2 separate regions of the Homo sapiens genome follow, and region 2 is linked to region 1. The links come from fine-mapping of genetic effects on gene expression. A gene starts in region 1. The other region holds a variant in brackets. All regions are shown on one strand. Distances are between the middles of the regions. Region 1 holds the start of PIK3R4 (phosphoinositide-3-kinase regulatory subunit 4). Region 2 overlaps PIK3R4 (phosphoinositide-3-kinase regulatory subunit 4).

Evidence for each region.
Region 2: its variant is fine-mapped to the expression of PIK3R4 in NK cells (Schmiedel 2018, PIP 0.95).

The regions. Positions count from the first base shown.
Region 1 is chr3:130,745,519-130,748,546 of GRCh38, reverse strand. PIK3R4 (phosphoinositide-3-kinase regulatory subunit 4) reads left to right here and starts at 1,718. Exons shown (of 20, transcript NM_014602.3): 1 at 1,718-2,229. RefSeq lists a silencer at 694-743 and an enhancer at 1,978-2,037.
Region 2 is chr3:130,724,174-130,726,673 of GRCh38, reverse strand. All of the region lies in intron 6 of PIK3R4 (phosphoinositide-3-kinase regulatory subunit 4), which reads left to right. Among named protein-coding and RNA genes, the nearest start is that of PIK3R4, 21 kb to the left of the region's middle. The variant TC/C (reference allele first, on the strand shown) is at 1,088.

The sequences.
Region 1 (3,028 bases):
TGGCAACACAAAGACTTATAGACTAATGCTATGAACATAGGAACATTATTCATAATAACGTAAAAGTAAAACAACTCAAATGTCTATTAACTAACAAAAGGGTAAACAAAATTATTTGCAACAACAAATAAATGAAGTACTAATACAAGCTACAATAGGGATAATCCTCAAAAACATTACCCAAAGTGAAAGTCAGTCACAAAGACCACATATTATATATAAAATGTCCAGAAAAGGCAAGTGTATACAAACAGAAAGTAGATTAATGATTGCCTAGGGCTGGAAGGGGGAGGAGAAATGGGGGAGAACAGGGAGTGACTCCGAATGGTTTCAGGGTTTCCTTTTGGGGTAATGAAAATGTTTAAAATCAGGCAGGCTGGGCGCGGTGGCTCATACCTGTAATCCCAGCACTTTGGGAGGTCGAGGCGGCGGATCACTTGAGGTCAGGAGATCCAGACCATCCTGGCCAACATGGTGAAACCCCATCTCTACAAACAATACAAAAACTAGCGGCCGGGCGCGGTGGCTCACGCCTGTAATCCCAGCACTTTGAGAGGCCGGGTGGATCACGAGGTCAGGAGATCGAGACCACGGCGAAACCCCGTCTCTACTAAAAAAAAAATACAAAAAATTAGCCCGGCGCGGTGGCGGGCGCCTATAGTCCTAGCTACTCGGGAGGCTGAGGCAGAAGAATGGCGTGAACCCGGGAGGCGGAGCTTGCAGTGAGCCGAGATCGCGCCACTGCACTCCAGCCTGGGCGACAAGAGCGAGACTCCGTCTCAAAAAAAAAAAAAACAAAAACCTAGCTGGGCGTGGTGGCACGTGCCTGTGGTCCCAGCTACTCTGGAGGCAGAGGCATGAGAATCGCTTGAACCCGGGAGGTGGAGTTTGCAGTAAGCCGAGATGGCACCACTGCATTCCAGCCTGGGTGACAGAGCCAGACTGTCTCCAAAAGAAAAAAAAAAAGGCCGGGCGCGGCGGCTCACGCCTGTAATCCCAACACTTTGGGAGGCTGAGGCAGGCGGATCACGAGGTCAGGAGATCGAGACCAACCTGGCTAACACGGTGAAACCCCGCCTCTACTAAAAATACAAAAAAATTAGCCGGGCGTGGTGGCGGGCGCCTGTAGTCTCAGCTACTCGGGAGGCTGAGGCAGGAGAATCGCTTGAACCCGGGAGGTGGAGGTTGCAGTAAGCCGAGATCGCTCCACTGCACTCCAGCCTGGGCGACAGAACGAGACTCAGCCTCAAAAAAAAAAAAAAAAAAAAAAAAAAAAAAAAAAAAAAAAAAAAAAATTAAAATCAGATTATAGGGATGATTGCACAACTCGATAGATGTATTAAAAACTACTGCTTTGTACATTTTAAGCAGGTGAACTTTATGGTATGTAAGTTATATCTCACCAGAACTCTAAAAATCCAGCTTGGGATATATTAGTTTTCCTAAATATTCTTGAGTTCTCTTAACTCTGTTCTGCTGTCCTGGGAGTGAAGGCGTGTCTGAGCAGATTCTAGGGGATGTCAGAAACCTCAGCGTTCGTGAATGAAAGGTAGAAGAGCAGGAAGGGGAATAGATCTTTGTCAGAGCATCATTTTCTCCCTGTAGACTCGCCCAAAGTAAGACCACGCCTTCCCTAGTTTCCTAGCAACCGGTTTCCTACCCTGGCAATTCCTCAAGGCTCACTCTTTTTCGTCACTTCCGCTCGGCGACAGGAAGTGAGGTCAGACCGGTTGCTTTCCCGGGAGTTCGGCGTTTGCTGGGGCTGCAGCAGCTGAAGTGTAGTGTTTTCTTGGGACTGGCGGTCTGCACTTCTCTCCCGGGTTCCATCTCCCCCCGCCCGGTGGTGAGGCCCTCGAGGAGGGCTCGGACGGGTGTAGCGATCCGCGCTAGAGGAAGACGAGGCCCGGGAACGCATGTCCCCCAGGGCAGGTTAGGGGGCTGGAGGGGTCAAATCCCGGGGTACTTGTGGAGACTCTTTAGCGTGGCTTCTTCTCTCTGCTGAGACCCCGAGAGCTTTCCCAGTTCTCCTCCCAGGACCACCGGGGTTCCTGAAGATCGGGACTTTTCTGCGCCCCTCCACCAACAGCCCATCTCCTGTCTATGAAGAAAGACCCTTCGTAGAAACAACTTCCCCGCTGCTGACGCGTTTTCCCGTCCCGTCCCCGAAGTAGTCTACTATGACCTCGTTGTGAGCCTCTGAACGATTTTGACACTTTCCCGAGGCCTAGGGTAAATGTTTATGTGTGCTCAAGGTCGTGTGTGTATATGTGTGGCATTTATTTCCTGCAAAACCTGAGTTAGCAGAACCCTGGGGTACGTTTAGCTAGTGTATACTTTGGTCTGCTTTTCTTTAACATCTGTGGCAAGGTTTCTTGTTGCAGACCAGCGAAGTTTGCACCTTCTTTTAGCTGGGTGAGAGGGCACACTGGAATTAGGCAGGAAGTGTCCAGGAGTTAACTGAATTTTTAGATCTTAGTTTGACCTTTTCAGTTTTCAGTTTTTCTTTTTTTTTTTTTATTTTTTGAGACGGACGGAGTCTCGCTCTGTCACCCAGGCTGGAGTGCGGTGGCGGGATCTCCACTCACTGCAACCTCTGCGTCCTGGGTTCAAGCAATTCTGCGTCAGCCTCACGAGTAGCTGGGATTACAGGCACCCACTACCACGCCCGGCTAATTTTTGTATTTTTAGTAGAGACGGGATTTTAACCATGTTGGCCAGCCCCGTCTTGAGCTCCTGACCTCGTGATCCTCCCGCCTCGGCCTCCCGAAGTGCTGGGATTACAGGCGTGAGCCACCGCGCCCGGCCAGTTTTAAGCTTTTAATGTGTCTCTTTCTTATTTCCAAGAAACTACAGATTCTTGGACAAGAACTATGTCATATGGTAACTTTGTAATTCTCATAGCCCCAAGCACAGCACGGAACACATAGTAAAGGCTCATTAATATTTTAAATTTAAATATGAGAAAATAACACAAACTAACATTTTTGGCTTAAAGTTGAAGAGGCCTATCTAAATATAGTTCAGCTCC
Region 2 (2,500 bases), 22 kb after region 1:
CCAGAAGAAAATAAATGACCATTAATCCTACAACCCATGTACAATGTCTGTTAAAGCTTTGATGTTTTTTCCCATAGCTATTCCTCTTCTCTTTCCATCCCATTTATCCCTTTCTGTCATATGCTGATCGTTAAGAGCAGGCATTGTGGAGCTATACTGTTGGGTTCAGGTGTTCACTTTGTCACTAGTTGTGGTTCTTGGAAAATCATTTAATTTTTTTGTGGCTTAGTTTACCTATCTGTAAAATGGAAATAAGAATAGTGCCTGTCTTACTGGTTGTTGGGGGATAGAATGAATTAATATATGTAATAGTGCCTGGCGTAAGTGCTATGTATATATTATATTACTTCCAAATTTTATTATTTCTTAAACTTTTTCTAATAACATACTTTAAGCATTTTCTCATATCATTAAAAATTTATTTGAAATCATAATTTGATAGGTCTAAACTATTCCTTTATATAGTTTTGCAAAAATTTAACCCTTTTGGATATTTAAATTATTTTCATTTTTTTCTGTCATATATAGATAATCTATATATTTGGTATAAATATGCAACGTATGTATGTAAGTAGTTGTTTCTGATTATTTTCTTAGGATAGAAGTAAAAAAATTTTAATTACTGTGTTAAAGAATGTGAATTTATTTTTAAAACTCATGACACATTTATAAGCTATTCAAAAAGATGATATCATTTTGCATCCCCATCTCCGTTAAGTGCTGCACACCCATCCAGTGTGAAATAGGCTTTACTTAGTCCTTGCCTGTTGGAAGGGTAAAATGATAACTTGTTTTGATATATATTTCTTAGCTTAACTATCAAGTTGAAAAACTTTTTCATGTTGATTATGCATTCATATTTCTAATTCTATGAATTTTAAAATTCATTATTTTGGCTTATTTTTTTCTGATACTTATGCTTTTCTTGTTCTTTTCGAGCCTTTATATACATATTAAGAACATTAATTTTTTAAATCAATTTTAAGCTCACGTTTCTTAGTTCTTTAACTTGATTTTTGAATCTTTTCTGTAGACAGTTTTTCTGAAGTCAGTTTACTCGATCTTTTTGCTTTGTGATTTTTTTTTT[TC/C]TACTTTTGTATGTAAAGTCTCTTCCCATTCCAGAATTAGATTAATAATCTGTTGTGTGCTTGTCTTTTTTTCTTTTTCATGCTTTAGTTTTTACACTTAACTGTTTAATTGATCTTTATTTTTGGTCTGTGATGTGGGATGAAAACTAAATTTTCTTTTTCTTCTCAGATATGTAACTGATTTTCCAGCATAATTTATTAAGCATTTTTTTTGTTTTTTTTCTTACTGGTTTGTTTCTTACTGTTTTATCATCTGTTGCATGCTTCTGTCTGTTAAGGTCAGTTTTCTGGCTATCTAGTCTGTTCCATTGATTTTTCTCTTCTTGTACTCATATTCATAGCCATATTCAATTTACATTATTATATATTTTTAATCACCTTTATCATCTGATAGGGTAAGTTTCAGATGTCATTCATTTTCAAAATAGTTTTAGCTATTTTAGCTCATTGTACATTTCAGTTTGTAAAGTTCCTAAATATAATTCACTGGAATTTTAGATAGAATTTTTCCTTTTATTAAAGAAAACAATTATAACATAATTTTTTAATCATAAAGGAAATAGGCTTTTAGAAATTATTTAAAATTTAATCAAAATGTATAATGTATGAAAAACAATAGTTGAAATTTCCAGAGGCAACTACTCAGCTTTCTGCTTTTATTTTAGTGTTTTCAGGTGATTATTACCATATCTCTAAATAATATTTTCATATTACTATTTTTAGAATAACCAACTTTGGACTTTATCTCTTGAATTTTTTTCTGTGCCAGATGAAGATTTAATTCACTCATAACATGCCTTGATCCTTCTTCTCTTTTCAGTTTTTGAGATGTTGACTACTATTTTCTGTGCTTTAGTTTTTGGTTTGTTGTTTTAATAACTTTAAGTAATTAAATCTATTTTGTGTGCTCCACCTCTGATTTGCAGTACAAGATTAGTGCCCCTTTTCTTTCTCTTTACCTGTGTCTCTCTTTTTTATTGTTTGGTTAGTTGAGAATTGAGAATTCTCAACAATTTTTTTGTCATAGTTAATAATACATTCTGTTCTATAACACAATGAAGTCTTTTATGTATAGACTGATTATGAAGCTTCAAAACAAAATACATGATTATGAATGTGTAAATTTTATTGACTGTGGAGCCAAGTAATATACTGTAATTATATTTGCTTCATCACAATCCCAATTCAGTGACTCTCCCCCTCACCATTTGAGTATGTTTATAGCAAGGCCAGTGGATTCTACTTTACTCCCTCTTCTAGTTACTAAATACACTATTTATTTTAATTTCATATTTGGACTGTGATTTTCTTGAGCAATTTCAGGAATTTTAGATTTCTTTGTTTTCCTTTTAGAAAGAAAAGTAATAAATTGTCACCATATCCGTAATAGCTAGCTTCTTTCTTATTAATTT